Linked DNA regions of Homo sapiens. The protein of the gene in region 2 interacts with the protein of the main gene of each other region in a pairwise test. Each region holds a gene or a part of one and is shown on either strand. Other genes may lie near its edges.

Region 1 (7,580 bases), on a different chromosome or scaffold from region 2:
TGAAATTAAAGCCAGGACATTTGAACCCGGAAGGCAGAGGTTGCAGCGAGCCGAGATTGCACCACTGCACTCCAGCCTGGGCAACAGAGCGAGCCTCCATCTCAAAAAAAAAAAAAAAAAAAAAAAAGACAGAGGTTGCTCTCTGAATGCCTGAGGGATTCAGGGCTGAGTCCACCAACATTGTTTCATGAAACTCTACTCAGCCAGCCAGTGGAGGCATCATGTATACAGTCAGCACTCCACATATCCTCACTTCCTGAGCATCTACAGTGCAAACCGACACACTCATCACACTCAAACAGCACATGCCGCACGTCAACCCGAGCCTCCCTCACAGGTTGCTTTCATCTCTTTTTCTCTCTTCACTGCAAGTTTTTTGCCCAAATGCAATTAGACACTTTTTTTTACAGAGACAGAAACCAAAGAGTTTTAACTAGGCACCACTACAGCAGTGGCTGTTGACCATCGTCTCCTGGCTGGAACCAGGGAATCCTGTGGGTGAGGGAGGAGCAATGCAGCAGCCCCAGCTGACTCACTCTGGGGTGGATGGATGGATTTACTCACTTACTTACTTATTTATTATTTGATTCTTGTTCTGTTGCCCAGGCTGCAGTACAGTGGTGTGATCTCAGCTCACTGCAGCCTGGACCTCCTGGGCTCAAGTGATCCCACCTCAGTCTCCCAAGTGGCAAGTAGCTGGGACTTCAGGCACATGCCACTATGCCAGCGAATTTTTTAAACTTTTTGTAGAGACAGGCTCTCACCCTGTTGCCCAGGCTGGTCTTGAACTCCTGGCCTCAAGCCATCTGCCCATCTTGGCCTCCCAAAGTGCTGGGATTACAGGTGTGAGTCACCACACTCAGCCCACTCAGTTTTGAGTGGCCATTTGCTTTGACTCAGCAAACACTTCTGATGGTAACAAAGCACCAACTGGGTGGCTGGTTTCAATCCTACTCTTGCCACCCAACACCGCAACATTTTATCAACCTGGAGCAAATGCTCTCGGGTCCTGAGGAGCTGGCCACACAGCCCATTTTGCTGGTGGGACAGTGGGAAGCCCCGCCCTCCTCCCATCCCACACCACTTAGGCAAGAGCTGTGCCTAGGAAATGTCACCCGTAACTGGTCCGCACAGACCCTGTCTTCTAAAAGGGTGCTGTGCCTCCACCAGACCCCATGAGCAATACATTTGTCAAGCACACGCAAGACATGCCAAGGCCAAGGCCTGACTGATTTGACAGTAAAGACACAATGAGCCCCTCTCATTCAGACCTTATTACTCACAGAGTGAAAATAAGAGAAGCCTGAGGTGGCAGCTCCCTGCTGTCCTGGTGCCACACACTAAAAAGGACAACACTGAAACAAAAGGGGTCAGAGAGCATGCGTTGCGGGACACCCACTGTGGAGGAGCCCCTTGACACTGCAGCTGGGTGGCGTCCTCATCTGCAGCTCTGTTTTGAGGGCCGGGGGCAGGGAGCCTCACCCTCACCAGGGCCAGTGAGGCAGGAAGTGAGGAACAGTCTCGGGAGACAGACGGAGTGAGCGGTGGCCTGGGTGCAGCCTGATGTTCTGGGAGGAGCAGGCTTAGGTCAGGTGCTGTGTGCACCTCTGCATGGCCTATGGGGATCCTGCAATGGCTCAGGGCCCCACAGCAGAGCTGTTTCTCCGCCCACACAACAGACATACAACCTGACACATGAAAACTCACAGAGAAACACAGAAAGGCACATGTGACAAAGAGCCACACAAAAGGCATGCAGCAAAGCCTTTTGACACACGTGCGCGCACACACACACACACACACACACACACACACACAGGCACCCACTCCTTCAAACCTTGGTGTTTGCCCAGACACAGCTGTGTCAGAGACAGGGGACCTGCAGCTCCCCAACACACACCAGTCACCCCACACTAACCCAAGGTGTCACCAGCCAGCCTGGTGGACTCGGGAGGCCAAGTGGAGGTGGACAGTGGCCGCAGAGCAAAGGCCTTCGGTGGATACCACCCGACGGGAAGAGCCATGGGGCCCATCGTGTCCACACACACAGGGGAAACGCACGTCTGCGAACCAGCTCCCCCATTCCTACACATATATCACCCATCCCTGGGGCTCTGGAGGATGAGACCCCTCCTTCCAGACCAGGCCCTCCCTGAAGACCCAGAGGTGGCCCAGGAGTCCCCATGCCTGAGTGACATACTGCTCATGTCCATGAAAAAGAAAAGGAACTTTGTGTGTGTGTGTGTGTGTGTGTGTGTGTGCGCGCGCGCACAATGGAAGTTTATATATATATGTATAAAGTATATATATATATTCATATATATATTCTTTTAAGTTCTGGGGTACATGTGCAGAACGTGCAGGTTTGTTACATAGGTATACACGTGCCATGGTGGTTTGCTGTGCCCATGAACCTATCATCTACATTACGTATTTCTCCTAATGCGAAAGGAACTTTTTTATCTGAGGAATGTGAGCTCCCTTTAATTATCTGGCCCAGAGAGGCACTGGAATGAAACAGCAGTCACATCCCACTCCTACTTGAGCTAACGACCTCTTGAAGCCAATTGCTCTGTGGGTTCCAGACTGACACCAAGTAGGCATAAAAAGCCATACGCTGGACACCATAACTCTTACCCAGTAGTCCAACACCTTATAGCCAGTCACTAAGGGTTCTCTCTGGAAAGCAGTCAGAATTCCTGCTGACTTCATATCAGCCCACTCCTTGTCCCCTTCAGTCTTTAAAAACTTGCTTGTAATAAGGCTGAATGAAGCACTCCCAGGGCAACTTGGTGTGTCCTGGGCAGCTCTCTCAGCCTTGGCCCAGACAAACTCTCTATATGAACTGTGGTTCAGTTTGTTTCTTTAGGTTGACATCCACATTAGGGGAGCAGTGTTGCTGGGCTGGGGAAGCTGGTTCAGGTCAGACGTTGCACCAAGGGTTGGAGAAGGGGCCTTCCTGCATCAGCACCCGGACAAGGCAGAGGAGCAGGTGTCCAAACCCAGGCCTGGCCTGCTCCTGCTGTGGCTCACAGCCCCCACCCCACCTGGCAGACCCCGGAGCTGGCGACAGTGTTGCCCAGCTGGCCACAGACATATCATCACGTGGGGCTGCCCTATATCCTCCCAGTCTCCACACAGACACTCTTCATGGACTGGGGGACTGAGGGCAGGGACACTGGTGAAACAGGCAGGCGTCTTCACCCAGCTAATCATCCCACTCACCACCTCCGGGGGAGGTGACAGTGACCAAGCCCAGCCCCAGCTGGCTCCTGGTCACTCACTACAGACTCAGCTCCCACAATCTCGAGTCCCACCTCCAGCTCCTGCCATTCTGAGGGACCTGGAGGCCAGGGTGCCCGGCGCATGACCAGCTCTGGGTTGTGGACCGCCCTCCACGGCAGTGGCCTGAGCGCTTGTCATTATTCACTTTATTCATGCCTGGTTTCTGTCTGGAAGGGACCACAAGGACATGGCGTGCAGGGGAGCCAATCCTGCCAGGGACTGAGGAAACAGATCCTGGAGAAAACCAGACACTTTGCTGGCACTTCAGGGGGACCCCAGTTGGTTGGCTCAACGCCCCCTCTTCCCCATAGCCAATTACTAACCAATGTTCTCTCTGGAAACCAGTCATAATTCCTAACCTGGTCAAAGCAGGGTCATCTCACACAGCCCAGCCACCCAGCAGGCAGCTAAAGAGTGCCTGATGAAATGCAAGTCTGATCGTGTCTGCGTCCCCAAGCCCTTCCGTGCCCCCTGCTGCTCTATGGACAAGCCCCCAGCAGCCTCTGTAATGCACAGCACCCGCCCTTGTCTCCTGTGCTGGCTTCCGCAGCCTGGCCACACTGGTCCTCTCGCCCACCCACCTGACCTGACTCTGGCAGGGCCTTTGCAGGAGCCATTCCTCCACCCGAGCCCCTCCTATTAAAGCCTGTTCCTAGACGGTTCAGCCCCAGCCACCAGAAGCCCCCCAGCCCCGGCCCAGCAGCTGGCCTGTGGAGCGGGGAGAGCGCAGTCTGGGCTCACGGGCTGGGGGCCACGGAGGCCCAGATGGGGACTCTGGCTCCGACTGTCCTGACCCAGAGGCTCTAGGGCGGTCCTGTCTGTCTCACCCCGGGGGCGGGGAGGACGCAGACAGACCCCAGCGCCACTGCTCGGCCGCGGATGGTGCCTTAGACCCAGGTCCTGTGGGCTCTGGCCCGAGACCCCTGCCTCTGGGGAGGCCGGTGACCGGGACAGTCCACCTCGCAGGCGCGCCGGCGCGGAGCCCGGACCTCGGCCCGCAATGACTCAGCAAGGGCCGGTGGGATTCTCCGTGGTCCTGCGATATCCAGACGGCGGAGTCTCGCCTTTAATGTCGCGCGGGGAGCAGGCAGGTGCGAGCCTGGGCTGAGCAAAACCCTCCTTGGAGTCTCCGCAGAGGAGCGGGGCGCGCCTCCTGAATAAGCAGGCGGCGGGGCGCGGGGCAGGGCGGGGCAGGCGGCCAGGCCCTCTCGGGACTGTCGTAAAAGGGGGCGGAGCGCGCCGCGCGTGGGACAATCGTAAAAGGGGCGGGACGCGCCGCGCTCGGGATGTCGTGAAGCTGGGGGAGCTCGTCGCCGCCGCCGGCGGCTAGCGGGCGTCCGCGCCATGGAGCGCTACGCGGCCGCCTTGGAGGAGGTGGCGGACGGTGCCCGGCAGCAGGAGCGACACTACCAGTTGCTGTCGGCGCTACAGAGCCTGGTGAAGGAGTTGCCCAGGTACGCAGGCGGGGCGGGCGGAGGCCTGCGGAGGCGGCTTCGTTTCCCGCCGGGGCTCACCGCGCCCCCCTACCCGCAGCTCTTTCCAGCAGCGCCTGTCCTACACCACGCTCAGCGACCTGGCCCTGGCGCTTCTCGACGGCACCGTGTTCGAAATCGTGCAGGGGCTACTGGAGATCCAGCACCTCACCGAAAAGAGCCTGTACAACCAGCGCCTGCGCCTACAGAACGAGCACCGAGGTGCGCGGGGGCAGCGGGATGAGGTGCCGCCTCCTCCGGGTCGGCGCCTCCGGGCAGCTCTTGGTATCTGTGCAGATCAGCTCCTTCCTTGGAAGTGTTCGGAAGAGGTCTCTAAGATTGACAAAATCAACGGGCGCAGAGACTGAGACAGCGCCTTTTTGGTGATCAGTGGGTCCAACCAGTTTTGTTTTCAGTTGCGCAGCACCCACCTTCTTAGCAGAAACTCCCTGTTCGGGCTTCCCTGTGCCCCACGCGCTTCCAGACAGGATGGCCCTAGGCCTCGGTGCCTGATTGGCCTGCAGGCAGACTCTGGTGGTGGCGCTGACTGCAGCAGCATTGCCCCTCAGTAGTTGGAAGTCTGTTGACAGTTGTGCAGCAAGCGTCTTTCAGGGTCAGTTCCCTCTCAGGCCTCGCAGGGCCTCATTCCAGTTGCACATCAAATTCCTAAGCACTGTCTCCTGTGGCGCCCTCCCAAACCCGAAGAGCTTCCCACTTGAGCCAGGCCTGCTTGGTGGGCTTGGGAGCCCTTTCCTGCAAATTATATAGGGCAGGTCCCCCTGCACCATCAGTTTCCACCTTTGTTATTTTTCCCAAACTTCTTATTTTAGAAGTTAAAACATTTAGAAAAGCTGAAAAGATAGTATAGTGCATACGCTTGTGCTCTTCACTAAAGTTCAATAGTTAACGTTTTGCTCTAGTTCTTGACATCCCAAAATATATACATGTGACAGCATAGCATTCACCAAGAGTCTTCAGCATTCCTGGAGACCAGGATTTTCAACCCAGCCATGCTGACATTTGTGGCTGGGTAAGTCTTTTTGGTGAGATGCTGTCTTGCGCATTGCAGGATGGCAGGGGTACCCTCCCTAGTCCTGAAAACCAAGAATGCCTCCAGACAACCTGGGTGGTGGGGTCAACCTTGGCCTTGGATTGGGAGCAAGTGCTCTAGAACAAAACTGGTCTCCTACACAGCTGCAGAAGGTAGCCCCCTGAGAAATTAACTGTTCCGGGTGTCTCCTGACTTTCAGTGCACGGCCACATCATGGTACCTAACTTGTGGCAAATTGTTGCTTTATAAGTAAGGATCCAGTCCAAGTTCATGTACTACAATTGGTTACTTTGGTCTCTTTGCTTCTGAAACAGTCCCCAACATTTATTGTGGCATTGACTTTTTTGTAGAGTCCAGGGCATTCTAATTTTATAGAATGCCCTGCTCTTGATCTATCAGACGAAATGCTTCCTCTTGCATTTAACCTGCTTCTCCACTCTCTGGGTTTCCTGTACACTGGACTGCTGGTAGAAGCCTGATTAGAAGCAGGTTTAATGTGGCAAAAATTTCTCCTAGCAGTGCAAGGCCCCCTTCCCCAGAAGGCAGGCAGTGTCCATCTGCTCCAGGATTGGTGTGTTTTTATCAAGAATGGATGTTGGATTTTGGCAGTTCCCTTTTCGGCAGCTCTTGAGATGATCACGTGGTGAATCATTTTCTATTACTACAGTGAATTACAGTCACTTGAATTCCATCCTACTGGGTCGTGCTGTAGTATCCTTTTTATGTATGCTGGATTTGATTTGCTAAAATCTTAAGAATTTTTTGGTCTATGTTCATGATAAACTGTGGTCTATAGTTTTCATGTAATATCTGGTTTGGGTATCAGGGTTTTTGCCAGCCTTATAGGATGAGTTTCGAAGTGTTCTCTCCTCTTCAGTTTTCCAGAAGAGTTTGTGTAGAATTGGCATTACTTCTTCCCCTAAATGTCTGGGCGATTGTCTTTTTAAAATTTTTTATTGAGCTGTAAGATGTATGTAGTTTACTAATCCCAAGCGCATGGCTCATTATTCCTTAATGCCCAGACTGTGCCATGTGTGGCCAGTTGGGGGCGCTCCAGGCACCTTTAGATGCCGCCCCATCATTCTGTGAGCACTTTCTTGCTTTCTGGTTCAGGTATGTGTTCAGGCTCATCTTTTCTTGTTTTCTCCGTGTCTCAGTCCTGGAATCGGCCATTTTTCCACAGAGCTATAGTTCCTTATAGCAGGATGGGGAGTTTTAGTAACTGCCTGGGCCCAATGCTGTTTGTGCTTCAGAAGGTTTGGGCCAGGCCCTGGTTCCACCAGCAGCAGGCATGCCTGCATTGACTTTCTGCTTCTCCTGCTGATTTGGCAGGGGCGACTGGCTGCTCCTGCCTCCTTTGTGTTCCCTGGTCATGTCTAAGGCCAGGCCCCTTCTGCCCAGGCAGCCAGCGTGGCTCTCTTCTTGCCTTTTGGTTGTCTATCTAGTGGAATCTGGTAGTGGACCTGGCACTTGTAGCAATGTTTGATCAGTAGAGTGAAGGAGATGACATTTCCCTGCTTCCCTGTGTTATGGAGCTGTCTTGAGGGGGGCTTTTGGTAAATACCATCGTCGAGGTGTGTACAGAATGTGAAGAGACAGGAGATCGGGGAAGGCTGTAGGCACAGCGGGAGCCAGGCTACCTGCAGGGGAGCCTCAGGGGCCCTGGAGTTCCCTGGGGACTGGCCACCAGAGAAGAGCTGCAACATCAGGGCTCTTCCCAGGAACAGAGTGTTGGGTTTCACCTTTTCTTTTGGCCAGGGACCCCTCCCTCC
Region 2 (3,899 bases):
CCTGATTAAAAAATCTCCCAAAGCCCCAAATTCCTGTTAGCCAGGTGGAGGCTTCTGATACGTGTATGAGACTATGCAAAAGTACAAGGGCTGAGATTCTTCGTGTATAGCTGTGTGAACGTGTATGTACCTAGGATATGTTAAATGTATAGCTGGCACCTTAGTTGCATGACCACATAGAACATGTGTCTATCTGCTTTTGCCTACGTGACAACACAAATTTGGGAGGGTGAGACACTGCACAGAAGACAGCAGCAAGTGTGCTGGCCTCTCTGACATATGCTAACCCCCAAATACTCTGAATTTGGAGTCTGACTGTGCCCAAGTGGGTCCAAGTGGCTGTGACATCTACGTATGGCTCCACACCTCCAATGCTGCCTGGGAGCCAGGGTGAGAGTCTGGGTCCAGGCCTGGCCATGTGGCCCTCCAGTGTATGAGAGGGCCCTGCCTGCTGCATCTTTTCTGTTGCCCCATCCACCGCCAGCTTCCCTTCACTCCCCTATCCCATTCTCCCTCTCAAGGCAGGGGTCATAGATCCTAAGCCATAAAATAAATTTTATTCCAAAATAACAAAATAAATAATCTACTGTACACAATCTGAAAAGAAAGACGCTCTAACTGCTCAGATAGGTGCTGCGGTCCAGCCCCCAGCTGGAGGAGACCCTGAGTCCAACCCAGGCCTCCCGAGGGGGCCAGTGAAGGGATCCCACACCCACCGCCCCTATGTAGGGCAGGGAAGAAATTGCAAAGGACTTGGGGGATAGATGGGAATGGGAGGGCAAACTGCAGCACTTGTTAAATTAATTAAAGAAACAAACCAGAAGCACAAAAACGGGGAAGGAGAGGGGAGAAGGAGCAGGTCCAGTGTTCCCAGGCCCCCAATTCTGGGGGCAAATGTTGCCACTTTTAGCTGGACCTTCCCAGGGAAGTCCCCCTTTCCCCCTTGTCCAAACTGAGTCCAACTGCTCACACCACTGGTGCAAACCTAAAGAGAATGGGAGTGTGTTGTGTGAGGGAGGGGAAAACCCCAGATGCCCTGGAGGCAGAGTCCTTGCCCCCTCGCTCTGGGCAGGGGTGAGGGCACCACGCACCCTCCTTGTGTCCTCTCTCCAGGCCTCTGCTTGTTATTGCTTGAAGCCCCACAGTCTTATGCCCATGGAGCAGGTGGGGAGGCAGGAGAAGGGCAGAGGAAGGATCCAGGGTTGTGACTAGATTCCGGGGATGGAGAGCGTGGGGGTCTGTGTGAGCCAGAAGTCTGAGGTCCTGGGTCTGAAGACACCAGTCCAACCCTCACTGCCGGCTGGCCTCAGCCTCCACTTTCACGCTGCTCCTGCGACCCTCCACCAGCGCGGGATGGGGTCCTGGGGCAGGACATCTGTCCAGCAGCCCTTCCTCGAACTCTGCAGGGAAAAGGGGGCAGTTAGGAGACTGCAGGGTGACTGGCTGCAGACAGAGGTGGTTGGGAACAGAAGCAGGGGCAAAGAAAGCTGTGAAGATGGGCTCAGTTTAGGTTTATTGAATTACTGCCTCCTGCCCACTGCATGTGTATGGGGGGTTCCATTCCCATGTGTGTGAGCCCCCTCCCCTCCCTGGCTGTGCGTAGCTCTGTCTCTGTCTGTCTCTCTCTCTTTCTCTCCCGCCTCCTCGGTTGCGCTGGAATTTCTGGTTCTGTCAGGAGCTGCGGGGGTGGTTTGGCTCTGACCTCTCCCCTCCCCCCTTCCCAAGCTCTGCCACCCCCACTCATCCCTGGCCCCCTCCCAGGCCCCTCCCAGGCCACTCTACCATGGCCCCCCAAGTTTTTTGGTAGCCAAATCAGAGGGAGAACAGGAAGCCAGCCTCCGAGCTCCTCCCTCAAGAAGAGCCCCCCTTCCAGTCCCCGCCCCCACTTCCCACCCACGCACAGTTTAAAAATACCAAGCCAGGGTTGGTGGCTTTGTCTGCTGCGTCACTCTCAGCCCAGCGGCTGCCCGGCCCTCCGCCTGCCCACTCCCTCTTCCCCCTTCCACACACAAAGCATCACTGCTTTGGGCTCCTCTGCTTCCAAGCTGGGCATCCCCATCCCCATACCCACAACTCCTAGCCTGCTCCCCACTCCTGGGTTGGTGGAAGTGCCATCTGAGCTTCCCTTATTGATGCTCCTCCTTCCTGCTCCTTCATCCTCTTTTCTCTGTCCCCCCATTCCCCAGTTCCCCTTTCACAGATCTACACTAGGACCAGACTTTCCATGGTGGGAGCAGCTCGGCAGGGTCTGCCTCTCTGCACCCCAAGGCCTGGCTGGCTGGAGCCCAGCCATCCTACTGCCCTCTCTGACGACTATATCCCTCTTCCTCCCACCTGGCCCCAGGACACCAGAATTGCTGTGTGGGGCCTGAGTGGCCGGGGTGCTTGGGGACAGCACTGCTGGCTGCCTCACCTGCGAGAGGTGGCTTCGCAGGCACACAGGGGCTGAGGCGGCCCACGCGGTCGTGGGAGACGAGGCGGGCGAGCCGCAGCCCCTCGTCCATCAGTGTCTGCTGCAGGATGTGTCGGCTCCATAGCCCATGGGCTGGCAATGCCAGAGGCAGGTCAGCAGGGGGCGGCGTCAGCCTTGGACATGACCCCACAGCTGTGGGCATGGGCACTGGTCAGGTAAGGGGCTGCAGCCAATGGAACCCCCACCCTCAACCACATAGCCAGCCCACAGGCCCTTCTGCCCCCCCTCCAGCCAGGTCTCCCAACCCTGTTTCAGGCACTGCCTCCTGGCTCACTCCTCCCCCAACCCCCTCCCCTACTCCCCCACCCTCAATGAAGAGAAAAGTGTTCTGAGGCACACTCACCCTGCAAATGTCCATCCAGACTCTCCCCAGACAGGCTGGCGCTGTCCTCCTCCAGGCTGGGGCGGTATGGGGGTACATAGGACTCAGGGCCTGGGGGAGGCTGCTGGATTTCAGGGTGACTCTGTTCTCCAACCTGTGGATGCCCAACATGGGGAAATGAAGACCTGCCAAGGGAGGGGATTGGGGAAGGCTGCCCAGTGCCCCTATATGCACCCCGGAAAACATACCTCTTGTTTCAGCTTCTTCAGTGGAGGGCCTCCCAGTTCTTCAGGGTGAAGCCTGAAAAGATGGGTAAGAATAAAGTGGATGAGGCTGACGAGGGCCACTCGACTGGCAGAGCACAGAACCCAGCCAGAGGCATGTGTTATTTAAAACCTTTGCCAAGAAGCTGGCCGAGAAAGAGTCTCTAGTTCAAGCACTATTGTTGTAGGGGGTTGGGGGGACCCGACATGGATGGGAGGAGAGACCAGACCTGAGACAAGCTGACTTGGCCAAAAGCAGGACATCCAGGTGGGCGGGAAGCAGGCCTAGAGCTGCCTGAGCTGAAGGTTAGGACATGATCTAACTCCATAGCAGGATTCCAGTCCAGGAAGGACCTGGGGAAGGGGTCTCACCTGGAGCCCTTCAAGGAGGACAAGTAGGTGCTCTCTCGGGCTACTTGGCGGGACAAAGAGAAGAGCTCCACTCTCCGTAATAAGAGCGTGTTGTCCCTCATGCAGAACTGGGCAGCAGCCTCGTTGATGGTGAGCTGTGGAGGGAGGGCAGCCAGGAGAGTCAGAATTCGAACTTCCCCGCTGCCTCACCAGACCTCCTCACACCCCTTCACCATTGGACAAATGAGGCCCATCCATCAGACGCTTGCTTTGGTTTTGACACTACATGGGAGCTTTCTGAGGTGGGAAGACAGAGGTCAGCACCCACAGCTTCCTAGGAATGCCCGGGGCCTCCTCCTCTCCTGTGGGGTCCTGAGTGACAAGGAGCTGAACAGCTCGGTGCTGCCTGTATCTCTGCTTCCCCCTCAGCTGAGGATGGAAGCACTGCGGCCGCTGGGGTAGGGGCCTGTTGGGGAGGGGATCAGGGCCT
Region 3 (5,013 bases), on a different chromosome or scaffold from region 2:
TAAAAATGTTTAATTACATTCCCTACCACATGGGAATGTTTGAGTCAGAGTGCCATGGCCTGAAATGTTTCATCCAGAAAGAAAGGGTTGCCCACTGTCACACAGAATGAAACTAGGAAGCATTTAAAATAGAAGGGCATTTGTGAGAAATGAAGAACAATCCTATCTTATTCACCATCTCACAATGTGTTTTGTTTTGTTCTTTAGAGACAGGGTCTTGTTCGCTTGCCCAGGCTGCTGTGCCGTGTCACAATCAGAGCTCACTGTAGTCTTGACCTCCTGGGCTCAAGCTAGCCTCCCACCTCAGCCTCCCAAGTAGCTAGAACTACAGGCATGCATCAGGGTCTTGACATGTTGGCCAGGATGTTTTCGCACTCCTGCCTCAAGCAATCCTCCTACCTCAGCCTCCCAAAGTGCTGGGATTACAGGCATGAGACACTGTGCCCTGCCAGTTTCCTCATGGAAATACAGTTAATTCCCAAACTAGATACAGGTGCCTCAATTACAAATATGCATTCAAAGGGAGTTTTAAAAAAATTTATTGGCTATGTTTGATTATCCACAACAGAATTTCCCTTAATTAGCACAGGAAATTGAAAGTTGGTTATAATTTAATATCTCTGCTCGTCTTCAACAGACATACTCAGCATTTATACTTGTAAATAGAATTGAGTTTTCATTGTTTCGTTTTCTGTTTTTGTTTCCTTAGGAACAAGAGGATGAAGGAAATATGGTCAGCATTTTAATAACACCATAAATCCAAGATAATAAGTAATTCTATAAAGTTTTCCAGTTTCATTAATTCAGAATTTCATCATATAACTTGAAATCCAATTGGCTTCCTCTTTCTTAGAAACAAAAACCAAAGAAACCTTTTTCTGAAAGACATTATTTTCCAGTATTAGGCCAATTTGTCCTCAAATTAAGTAGAATCTCAACATCTTGTTGAGCCAGTTTGTAAATTCCAACTTCATTTAATGCTGCTGTGGCAGGAAGCTGCCCTGAAGCTGACTGCAGTACATCTTTCAGCAGTAGTGCAGAACCGACGTTCAAATTCAAAACAATACAGGCTTCTTTTATACTGTTTAGGGAAAACAAAGGAGGGAAATGAGATCTCCATTATCTGCATCAATTATATTACAATTTTGAGAATCCTAAACAGCTTCTCTGCACTGCTGGTCCACATGTTCTCTATAAAAATATTTATGGATTTATTATTTGGTTCTTTTAACATGGTAAGACTACACAGGTGCAGAGTTGCTATTTCTTTAGATTACTATAAGGTAATACGATCCCTATTTCAATATGTATCCGTTATTTCCCTAAATACAATACTTAATATTAACACTATATTAAATATAGCTATAACTTTAGGTAGATTAGAACATGGGAAAAGACAAAAATAAGAGATAAATGAAAGCAGCAGAAAGAACATTAAAATAAATTTTAAAAACAGTCCTATGAAACGTGTAAACATAAGCTTTCATTTTATAAGTCTAAAAGGAATGCTTTATAACCTCACAAAACCCAAACATAATTTAAATTTTACTTTTTTTTTTTGAGACATGGTCTTGCTCTGTCACCTAGGCTGGAGTGAAACTGCACGATCATAGCTCACTACAGCCTCAGCCTCTCAAGTAGCTAGGACTACAGGTCCACACCCCCACACCTGGCTTTTTTTTGTTTGTTCATTTTAATACTTTCTGTAGAGATGGAGTCTTGCTATGTTGCCCAGGCTGGTCTCAAACAGCTGGCCTCAAGCAATTCTCCCACCTCTGCCTCCCAAAGTACTGGGATTACAGATGTGGGCTACTATGCCTGGCCTATAAATTTTAGATCAACAAATTCTGAAACTATAATTATATTTAGAACCAAAATTAATGTCAAATGTTTAAGGAAACAAATTTCTTTCAGGCCTGGCCTATTAGGTATTAAACATATTTGTAATTTTTTTTTTTTTTTGAGACAGTCTTGGCTCACTGCAAGCTCCGCCTCCCGGGTTCACATCATTCTCCTGCCTCAGCCTCCCAAGCAGGTGGGACTACAGGTGCCCGCCACCAGGCCTGGCTAATTTTTTTTTTTTTGGTATTTTTAGTAGAGATGGGGGTATCACTATGTTAGCCAGGATGGTCTCGATCTCCTGACTTTGTGATCTGCCCAACTCAGCCTCCCGAAGTGTTGGGATTACAGGCGTGAGCCACCACGCCCGGCCCTGTAATTTCTTATATTTAGTGAATAGGGCACAACTGTACTTGTTTTCATTTTCTATTTATTCCTCCAGTAACTAAGCAACTAGAAGCATTAAACCAAATACTAGAAAACAAAACCCAACAGGTAATTTATATCTAGTTCTGAAACTTTTTGAGGTCATGGGTCACATCTATCATCTTGGTTTCCCCATTGTGCTGTAAGCATACAGTAGATAGACAATGTTTTAAAATTTCAACTGATCTTATCCCACCCAAACATCTCCAGAACCCTAAAGTTAAAAGGAGTTAGCCTCCTGTAACAATTTGATACATTAATATTAATTGTTAAATGTTGAGCTTACTGTTTAAAATAATTTTCTGGTCTCTTGCAATAGTGAGAAAACAAAGGGAAAAGATTCCGAGTCATATCAAACTGCAGCTGGGCTGCTCCTCCTTCATTGAAGTGATTAGCAAGAATTATCTGAAACAAAGAATAATTCATATAACAGTTGTCTTTATTATCACAGCCCAAAAACAGTCTATTCTTACTTACTTCTTGGTAGATGTATACATCCAGCTTCTCTACAAGCATTTGCCAGAAAATTTTAAATAAGGAGAAACAAAGCTGCTGCTCCAACTGAAGTAAATGGTCTCGTAACGTCAGCAGCAACGGGCAAGCCGAACTGGACAGGGACATCACTGCCTGCTCTGACTGAGATGGCAAGGACAACCATCTGGAAAAAACACATTTTTACCAAAAAATTTTCATCAGTTTCTATTTTTCAAGTTTTTAAATCATTTTAAATTTGAGGAAGTGTTCTGTCCTAGGGCATTTTGGATAAGAAAAAATATACAGCCTAACATTAAAAGCTCTATCAGAAAATAAATGTACCTGTATTTATATTTTCACTCTCAAATACTCTTTAATATGGGGATATATCCAAAATATCCCCAAATTTTAATATGTGAATTACTGATATAAGGCAATTACAATTTAAAATGTCACTTAATTTTTGCATTTTATTTATGTAGTTTTTCTTTTTTTTTGAGACAGAGTCTCGCTCTGTTGGCCAGGCTAGAGCCACAGGGTTCAAGCAATTCTCGTGTCAGCCTCCCAAGTAGCTGGGATTACAGGTGCCCACCACCACGCCCAGCTAATCTTTGAATTTTTTAGTAGAGACAGGGTTTCGCCATGTTGGCCAGGCTAGTTTCGAATTGCTGCCCTCAAGTAATCTGCCCGCCTTGGCCTCCCAAAGTGCTGGGATTACAGGTGTGAGCCACTGCACCCAGCCTGATTTTAGCATTTTAATTAAGACATCAGCTAATATTATCCTCTAATTTTTAGTAAAAACAGGACTAATAAACGAATTTTAAGCACTCTGTGTGGCAGGGACTATGCTAGGACAAAAAGATACTGCTTGCTATCAAGGATGAAAGTAACACAGGTGTTCACAGTGAATGGTAGTGGGATAAACCACAACAAAAGTATGCAGAGTACCACAGGTGCACTTTACTTTGCAAAATGGGAGACAGGTTAGGCTATTCAACCCCAGATCACACACTATCCTATTGATATATTTACAAACAACTAAATTATAATCAGTTTATTCTGATTAAGAATGTCAGCCAGGTGTGGTGGCTCACACCTGTAATCCTAGCACTTTGGGAGGCCGAGGCAGGTGGCTTGCCTGAGGTCAGGAGTTGGAGATCAGCCTGCCCAAAATGTGAAACCACATCTCTACTAAAAATACAAAAATTAGCCTTGTGTGGTGGTGCATGCCTGTAGTCCTGGCTACTTGGGAGGCTGAGGTGGGAAGGTCACTTGAACCTCTAAGGCAGAGGTTGCAATGAGCCAAGATCGTGCAACTGCACTCCAGCCTGGGTGACAGAGTAGGACTGTCTCAAAAAAAATGTCCAAGAGAACATACTTTAGAAATATTTCCATCAACAATAAAGTACATAAGGCCAAACCGGGTTCTATCTAGACACCTTGAAAATCTGACCACATATTCTTTAACTTTTACCAAACTGGTGTTAAGAGCTGACTTACATAGAGGACATACCTTTCTTTTTTATACAATTTTGCAGCATCTTTAACTTCTCTAAAAACGTGGTCTACTTGACGGGTCAACATATCATGCTTTAAACGTTCTAAGAGGTTAATCATGTCATCAAAGACAGAGCTCTCCATAGAGGCTAGCTGTCCTAGCTGCAATTTACTCAGAGTATTATTCTCTGCAAACACCTCCAGTGCAGCCTGTTGAAGTTGTAGAAAGAACTGAAAGCAAAAACATGTTAACACATTAGCATACTTTTTTTTTAACAGTTTGAAATAGAATTCATATGTCATACAATTCACCCATTTAAAGTGTATAATTCGACCGGGCACGGTGGCTCATGCCTGTAATCCCAGCACTTTGGGAGGCTGAGGTGGGTGGATCACCTGAGGTCAGGAGTTCGAAACCATCCTGGCCAACATGGTGAAACTCCAACTCTACTAAAAATACAAAAATAAGCCGGGTGTGGTGGCATGTGCCTGTAATCCTAGCTTGAACCTGGAAGGTGGAAGTTGCAGTGAGCCGAGATCATGCCTCTGCACTCCAGCCTGGGCGACAAAGTGAGACTCCATCTCAAAACTAATAATAGTGTATAATTCAATGATTTTTTTATATATTCAGTTGTATATCCATCACAATTTTAGAACATTTTCATCACCAAGAAAAAAGCCGTTATCCTCTAATACCGTCTCCCCACTCCCTCAACTCATAGGCAACCACTAATTGACTTTCTGTCTCAATGGATTTGCCTGTTCTGGACATTTCAT
Region 4 (8,018 bases), on a different chromosome or scaffold from region 2:
CTTCAGCATTGGGATTAGGATAAACAATCATGACAATCTTCAGTTTTAAACATCAGCCAGTTGTTTTCAAATATTACTCCTATTCTATATACAGGGAACAGAGTCTTCTGGTTTGGAGCAAAATAATGGAAACTTCTTAACTCCTAAAATTAATAAAAGTATTTTAAAAGCTTTAACATTTGTATTTTCAGGCCGGGCGCAGTGGCTCACGCCTGTAATCCCAGCACTTTGGAAGGCCGAGGCGGGGGATCACGAGGTCAGGAAATGGAGACCATCCTGGCTAACACAGTGAAACCCCATCTCTACTAAAAATACAAAAAATTAGCTGGGCGTGGTGGCGGGCACCTGTAGTCCTAGCTACTTGGGAGACTGAGGCAGGAGAATGGTATGAACCTGGGAGGCGGAGCTTGCAGTGAGCCGAGATCGCGCCACTGCACTCTAGCCTGGGCAACAGAGCGAGACTCCGTGTCAAAAAAAAAAAAATTTTTTTTTTTGTATTTTCTAATTATGTTGTTTTTCTAATGTCAGAAAAGCATCTTTTGGCAATAGGAGAACAAAGTTTTGCTTTCCACTTGGTATCGACTTGGTGTCGAAAATAAGAAATGTTATGTGAAAATAAGTTTTTGTCCAGTGGATAAAATCAGTGTTAAGCTGATTGAGATTTTCAGAGTCCATTTTTTCTTTGTACTTGTTTAATAATAGAGGAGTTCCACATTCTGTTGTCAATAGACATTTAGTGCTGTACTAGAAATTAAAATGTCTCCAAAAATTAAGAATATGAACAAAGATTTAGTTTTAAGAATGTGAATCTGTTTTGAAACCAATTTGTTAAAATTCCAAAAAGTTAACTGTTCTCTTCAAAAGCACAATCTATGTCTATTTGGTATGTCTGCAATGTTTCCATAGTGTAACAATATCCTGCATACTTTACACAATAATGAAAATTAAAAACTACACAGACATCCAAGAATTGGGAAATAATTAAGTAAGATATGCATGTGATAGCAAATAACAGAATATCCAGCCAGTAAAAGCCAAGATATTCAGTTCAAATTAAATAAGCAAGTCACAAAATAGTGTGTACAGTATAATCCTGTTTTTGTTTTAGAAAATGTTTACATGTGCAGTGGGATGGTTATGGTTGGTTCAACCGTAGTTCACACTTTTTCTACATCAATTTTGTAATAAAATTTTTTTCTTCTCAGAATAATTTAAACTCTGTTTCAGATCAGAGTGCATATGCTACCTTATTAAATTCACAACAAAGAAATAAAAGAGTGGTGGGTATAGGACAAATAACTCTAGATTGACTTGGTTGTGACAATCCACAGGTTGGAGCTGGAATCTCGAGTCTGAAGTCAAATTATATCTGACCACCATGTCAAATTGGCAAGTAACTGACATCAAATCATGAGATTCAATACTTTTGTAACCAATTTTGTTAAAATTCCAGAAAATTGTTGTTGGGAGACAATTTTCCCTGCGTCTCTGGTGGTTCTGCATGTCTTACTGACTGCCCTTTCCTCTAGACTATTGTCTCAAGGATGTTTGTACACTGGACAGCCTTGAGAAACATGCTTATTTGTCCAAATGATAAAGATCTGGGTTCCCTAAGCTCAGGGCTCCTTTCCTGTAATTCGACACACACTACATCTAGGTGACTTCTTGCCCACTTTGCATTATCCTGTGGGAACTGGGGCTTTAGGGAACTCAGGCGAAATTGCTGATTTACTGGCTACTGCTGGGAGTAATTCATTCCTGAAATGAATAGTCTTGTGTCTTCCATGAAACTGCCAGGCTAAGTTAGCCTGCAAACAGGGTAAAAATCTCTGTTCCTTCCCAGTTCTTGAAACTTTTTTTTTTTTTGAGACGGAGTCTCGCTCTGTCGCCCAGGCTGGAGTGCAGTGGCACGATGGTCGGCTCACTGCAAGCTCCGCCTCCCAGGTTCACGCCATTCTCCTGCCTCAGCCTCCAGAGTACCTGGAACTACAGGCGCCCGCCACCACGCCTGGCTAATTTTTTTGTATTTTTGCTAGAGACAGGGTTTCACCGTGTTAGCCAGGATGGTCTCGATCTCCTGACCTCGTGATCCGCCCGCCTCGGCCTCCCAAAGTGCTGGGATTACAGGCGTGAGCCACCGCGCCTGGCCCCCAGTTCTTGACACTTTTTAAGGTATAGTTCCAAAAACCTACCAGCGCTGTATGTGCACAAACTAATTTCTGTCTTCAAATATTTTCTTAATTATTCCATACTTACCAGCATTATTACGTGGAACATCTGATAGAAAACCTAAAGAAAAATAGCACGACTATGTGTTAGAACATTCGTTATTAAAAATCTTTTTGTTCTTTCATTTTGAGAGACTCCAATTTGGTGCATTATGTGTACACGTCAGAGCCAACTTGTTAGTAATGAAGTTATCTGTACATCAATGTGTTAGAAAAGCATCTTTTGAAACCAAACGCGCAGCTACTCCTAACAGATTTCTGTGGTCATGTATTTACCAAGAAATTTAAAATATCTCAAAGGTCCTAACGTAAATATTCTAAGCATATCATTACGTTTTAACATTCCTATTTTTAAAAAACTTGGCCCCATCTAGTCCTGACCATGCCTCAGAAACCAAAGGATTAAAAAAACAGCGTTTATGTCAGCGAATCCGCGGGTTTTTATAGTTAAGGGAGGGCTTTGCTCCTCACACTCCACCCGCGAGGAGATCTGCGGACGCACACACCACGCCTAGGCCTCGCGCGCTCACACACCTGCCGGCTCCACCCCGAGGGTAGGCATCGGACCCAATCGGGGGTCGTCCCCCATGGGGAGCGCGCAGGTGGGGATGGGAGTAGCAGGCAGGGCGGGGGCCCACGGGCTTCTCACTGACCCAGTCCCGCCGTCGGCAGCCGCCCCGGCGCCCGTGACGCTCCTGCGGGTTCAGTCCTTTGGCCTCGCCCCACGCCTGCCCTCTCGGCAGCCCCACTCACAAGCCCAGCTCGCAAGCGCAGGCGCCTCTCTTCTCTAGCCCGACCGCCAACTGCAGCACCTCCCTTGTTCCTCGGCTACGGCTGGCGTCACTTCCGGCGGCGTTGCCAAGCAACCGCGTGGTACGAGTAACAACTCCACCGGCTGGCGTCCGCGGCGCTTGGCGCCACAGTCACTTTTCCAGATCTAGGAGCATCATGGACACCTCGTCAGAGATGCTGGTACGGTTTGGACGGCGCTGTGGACGGGCGAAGGAAAGTACAGGTGAGCTAAACTGACCTATCCAGGGACAGGGATTGTTTCTGGACCCCCGGCATGGAGTGAGAGGCGAGGATGCCGAATGAGGGCTTCAGTTGCCTTTTGAAATGGACTCCACCAGGTCGAAAGCATCCTCAATAAGCATCTTTGGGCTCTGTGTGAAGTTAGGCCGTCTTGCCCTCAGGTGAATGGGTGAAGGAGGGAAACGGGGAGTGGAAGTGGGTGGGAGAATGTTTACAGAAATAGGGGTGGAGAAAAGATAGGAAATCAGAGACCCCCACCCCCAGCCCCAGCTGACCTAAAACTGCGCAGTTGCAGCTCTGAGAGTCTGGGTTTTGTTAAATTTCCCGCACGCTTAAAGTTTGTTATTCACTGATTGAATTGGAATATCTCTTGGAAATATAAGTCACCTCTTTAGAGGCTTGGCTCTTCTGCAAACCTGCTGATTGGTCTTTACTAAAAGTCTCTGAAGGAAATATCTCCATTTCCTCCTCTCTAAAGTAAATATAAGGTCTCTCTCTAAGTCAAATGCTTTTAGAGAGTTAAAAAAAAATCGTGTGACATAAAGTACTGTAATTCAGGTGACCTGTTATAACAATTTGATTTTGGAATAGAAATAGACTTCTAAAGAACTCTATCAATTCTAGCTACAACAGTTTCTTACGTCTGTAAATTAGCAATTAATGTTGTCATGGTGACAACTAGAACTTTGGCAATTTGAAGTATCTTCATGTCATTGCCCGAGCTTCTGTAGCAATAGTGCCCCCTGCACCAGATGCAGAGTGACAGCCAGTCATTCTTCACTAGTGGATATTTATGCAGTGGAGGTTTTATGAGGTTAGCAGCGGACTTTTGCCATGTAAAAGGAAAGAAACAGTACCAACATGGCCAGTTTTGGAAAAGCACAATTAGTCCCACACATTCACTTTCCTGCATATGCATTTCTGCACTACCTGGTTTAGATTTACCTAATAGTTGTTAAATAATGTTTTGTGGCAACTAGCTCAAAAGCTTCCACCTGAGCCTCACTGCTAAATTTTAATCTCCATTTTTAGGGGAAGGCTAAGTTGGAGAGAGGTTCAGAGATGTGTGCAGCTATTAGTAAAATAAATAATTTATAAAGATTTAGTGGGATGACATCAGCCAGAATGGTGAAATAGGATCTATGCCTGAAATCCTCTCCTCCATAAAATCAACAAGAACAGTGGCAAAAATCATCAATATCGACTTTTTCAGAACTCTGGAAATTAACCAAAGGCTTGCAACAATTTGTAGAGTGTTTACTAAAGAAAAACAGCTGGATTTTTGTAACAACAGCAAGGTTTTTGGCATTTTAACTTGCCATAGTCCTATACTTTTCTCCCAGCCCCGTGTCAGCCTAGATAACCACAGTAATCACAGTGAAAAATAGTGACTTAGCAACTGGTAGAGGGGACAAAACAGAATTTGACCCACTCCAAAGCCAGACAACTGTTATTATTCGACATGTTTGATAGTTCCTTGGAAAATCTCACTCATGAGGCTTATTGTTATTTAGTCTGACTTCAAACTCACCAAGTATGTTTGTCAAATGTTCAGTGGCAATTTTAAATATCACAGCTATCAGAGGCATGTGTGGGAACTTAATCCCCAATGTAAAAATGTTGGAAGGTAGGGACTAATGAGAGGTGATAGGCCATGAGGGCAGAGTAAAGGGATTAATGCCATTATCTGGGGAATGGGTTCATTATAAAAGTGGGAAAGTTGGCCCTCTTCTTTCTCTCTCTCTCTCTCTGTCTCTGTGTGGTGTGTGTGTGTGTGTGTGTGTGTGTGTGTGTGTGTGCGTGCGCCTGTTGCCCTCTCTTTGCCCTTTTGCCATGTAATGCCTTCCATCATGTTATGATGCGGCAAGAAGGCCCCTGCCAGATGCTGGCACCTCGATACTAGCTTTCTCAGCCTCCAGAACCATAAGCCAATAAATTTCTATTCCTTATGAATTACCGAGTCTCAGGTATTCTGTTATAACAGCATGAAACAGGCAGGCAGTGATACAGTTGGGAGGCAAACAACAAGCTGACCGAAAATCTTAAAAGGATCAGTTGGGAAGTGATATGTCCATAGGGGGCTTTGGAAAGCTCCTGACATATTCCTGGGAATCTAGAAGGCCAAGTGCATGCATAGAGCTATGTATATGCCCAGGAAAGACCTGCAAATGCCTCTCACCTATGACTTACCTTGAGACTCTGTTTAAGAAAGAAGTAGAGGCTAAGATGGAGTTGTAAATTGCCTGCCCGAGCATTGAAGGCATGCCTTAATACTCATAGACAGTCCTTTGGCAAAGACTGGGAGACTTGTTAGTTCCAGTCATCCAAAGATATGTCTGTCTAGTTATTAGCTGACCACTAAGCAAACCAGAGACTGCAGTGACTCCAGTGGCCACATGTGACAAAGAATACAGACTACAGAATTGGTTCAGAGAAGTCCTGAAACAAACAACAACAGCAGGAATGAGAAACTTTGGGTGTATGTAGAAATCTGATTTCCAGAGTTGACACATATATGTACAGTTTTTAATAAAAATTATGAAAGATGAAAAGAAATAAAGTATGACCCAAACACAAGAAAAAGGTTTCAATAGAAAGTGTCTTTGAAATGGACTCCACCAAGTTGAAAGCATCCTCAATAATCATCTTTTGGCTCTGTGGAAGTCTGGCCATTTTGTGCTCAGTTGAATGGGTGGAAGAGGGAAAGGGGGAGTGGAAGTGGCGGGGAGGATGTCTACAGAAGTAGGGGTGGACAAAAGATAGGAAATCAGAGACTGCCCCCCCAACTGACCTAAAACTGTGCAGTTGCAGTTGTTGTAAGCCCAGATGTTGGATTTACTAGATACAAACTTTTGTAAATTTATAGCTATTGTAAATATATTTAAAGAACTAAAACAAAAGTCTAAAGAACTATAGAAAAGTATTAAGAATGTTGTCTTACCAAATAGAGGATATCAATGAATATTTAAAAAAATTATAAAAAGGAACTGAACAGAAATGTTGGAGTTGAAAAGCACAATAACTGAATTAAAAAATTAACTAGAGGGATCAATAGCTGATTTGAACTTGCAGAAGACATAATCAGTGAACTTGAAGATAAGTCAATTGAGATTATTCAGTCTCAGAATAATGAGAAAGAAAAAAAGATAAAAGAATGAAGAAAAATGAGCAGATCTTCAGAGAAATGTAGGGCACCAGCAAATATGCCAACATAAATGTAACTCGAGTTCTGGAAGAAAAAGAGCAGAGAAAGGGGTAGAAAAATTTGAAGAATTAATGGCCAAAAGCTTTCCAAATTTGATGAAAAACATCACACAATCAAAAGGCTCAGTGATCCTCTAAGTATGGTAAACTCAACTCAAAGAGATCAACAGCTGTACACATCATGATCAAACTGTTGAAAGCTAAAGACAGAGAAAATCTTGAAAGCACAAAAGAGAAATGACATTACATAAAAGTAATCCTCAATAAGATTAACAACAAATTTCTTATAAGAAATTATGGAGTCCAGGGGCAGCAGGCTAATATATTCAAATTACTGAAAGAAAAAGTCTTCAAGAATTCTTTTTTTTTTTTTTTTGAGACAGAGTCTTGCTCTTGTCACCCAGGCTGGAGTGCAGTGGCATGATCTCGGCTCACTGCAACCTCTGCCTCCCAGGTTCAAGTGATTCTCCTGCCTCAGCCTCCTGAGTAGCTGGGATTACAGGCACCCGCCACCACACCTGGTTAATTTTTGTACTTTTAGTAGAGATGGGGTTTCGCCATGTTGGCCAGGCGTGTCTCAAACTCCTGACCTCAGGTGATCCCACCTTCAATTATTAATTGAAAAAATTCTCACAAAGAAAAACTGGGTACCAGATGGCTTCATTGGCTAATTCTACTAAATTTTTAATGAAATATTAACATAAATCCTTCAAAAACTTTTTAAAAAATAAGAGGAAGGAGCACTTTCCAGCTCATTCTATAAGGGCAGTATTACCCTGATACCAACATCAGACAAAGATATCACAAGAAAACTATAGATCATTATCCTTTATGAATAGAGATGCAAAAATCTTCAACATAGTTTTAGCACATGAGCTAGATGTGGCACACACCTCCCAGCTACTTGGGAGGCTGAAGTGGGAGGACCACTTGAGGCCAGGAATTTGAGGCTGTAATGTGCTATGGTCACACTTGTAAATAGCCACTGCGCTCCAGCCTGGGCAACATAGTAAGACCCCATCTCAAAAAATAAGTTAATTAATTAAATAAAATACTAGCAAACCAAATCCAACAACATATAAAAAATTATTATATACCATGACCAAGTGGTATTTATCCCAAGAATGCAAGGTTGGTTTAAAAACAATTAATGTAGTACACTGTGTAAATAGAATAAGGAACAAAACTACATGATTATCCTAATAGAAAAAACATTTGACAAATCTAACATCCATTTATGATAAAAACAACAAACTGGGAATAGAAGGGAATTTTCTTAACCTGATGAAGGAGACCTATGAAAAGCCCATAGCTAACATCATAGTTAATGGTGATAGACTGAAACCCTGATCAGGAAAAGAAAAGTATGCCTGCTTTCGTCACTTCTGTTTAACATCATACTGGAAATTCTAGCCATGGCATTTAGGCAAGCAAAACAAAAGGCCATCCAGATTGGAAAGGAAGAAATAAAACTTTCTATATTCACAGATGACATGATATTCTATATTAAAAATCCTAAAGAATGTACTAAACATTTATAAGATCTAATAAAGT

The links.
Region 1: the proteins of NAB2 (region 2) and DGCR6L interact in binary tests that used the Homo sapiens proteins (3 or more experiments, as listed by UniProt).
Region 3: the proteins of NAB2 (region 2) and RINT1 interact in binary tests that used the Homo sapiens proteins (3 or more experiments, as listed by UniProt).
Region 4: the proteins of NAB2 (region 2) and PHOSPHO2 interact in binary tests that used the Homo sapiens proteins (3 or more experiments, as listed by UniProt).

What each region holds. Positions count from the first base shown.
Region 1 is NC_000022.11:20,317,038-20,324,617, reverse strand, and holds the start of DGCR6L (protein DGCR6L), read left to right. Parts: upstream 1-4,557; 5' UTR 4,558-4,629; coding exon 4,630-4,739; intron 4,740-4,818; coding exon 4,819-4,979; intron 4,980-7,580. UniProt on the Homo sapiens protein: May play a role in neural crest cell migration into the third and fourth pharyngeal pouches.
Region 2 is NC_000012.12:57,092,113-57,096,011, reverse strand, and holds the end of NAB2 (NGFI-A-binding protein 2), read right to left. Parts: intron 3,565-3,899; coding exon 3,431-3,564; intron 3,096-3,430; coding exon 3,044-3,095; intron 2,950-3,043; coding exon 2,817-2,949; intron 2,606-2,816; coding exon 2,414-2,605; intron 1,401-2,413; coding exon 1,291-1,400; 3' UTR 536-1,290; downstream 1-535. UniProt on the Homo sapiens protein: Acts as a transcriptional repressor for zinc finger transcription factors EGR1 and EGR2. Isoform 2 lacks repression ability.
Region 3 is NC_000007.14:105,563,187-105,568,199, reverse strand, and holds the end of RINT1 (RAD50-interacting protein 1), read right to left. Parts: intron 4,468-5,013; coding exon 4,253-4,467; intron 3,077-4,252; exon of another isoform or gene 2,924-3,076; coding exon 2,743-2,923; exon of another isoform or gene 2,671-2,742; coding exon 2,552-2,670; intron 1,878-2,551; exon of another isoform or gene 1,082-1,877; coding exon 889-1,081; 3' UTR 747-888; coding exon of another isoform or gene 710-746; 3' UTR 523-709; downstream 1-522. Other genes in the region: EFCAB10 (EF-hand calcium-binding domain-containing protein 10), read left to right, coding at 710-733, 2,585-2,651. UniProt on the Homo sapiens protein: Involved in regulation of membrane traffic between the Golgi and the endoplasmic reticulum (ER); the function is proposed to depend on its association in the NRZ complex which is believed to play a role in SNARE assembly at the ER.
Region 4 is NC_000002.12:169,689,486-169,697,503, reverse strand, and holds the start of PHOSPHO2 (pyridoxal phosphate phosphatase PHOSPHO2), read right to left. Parts: upstream 3,036-8,018; 5' UTR 2,882-3,035; exon of another isoform or gene 2,763-2,881; intron 2,290-2,762; 5' UTR 2,257-2,289; intron 144-2,256; 5' UTR 1-143. Other genes in the region: CFAP210 (cilia- and flagella- associated protein 210), read left to right, coding at 3,177-3,243. UniProt on the Homo sapiens protein: Phosphatase that has high activity toward pyridoxal 5'-phosphate (PLP).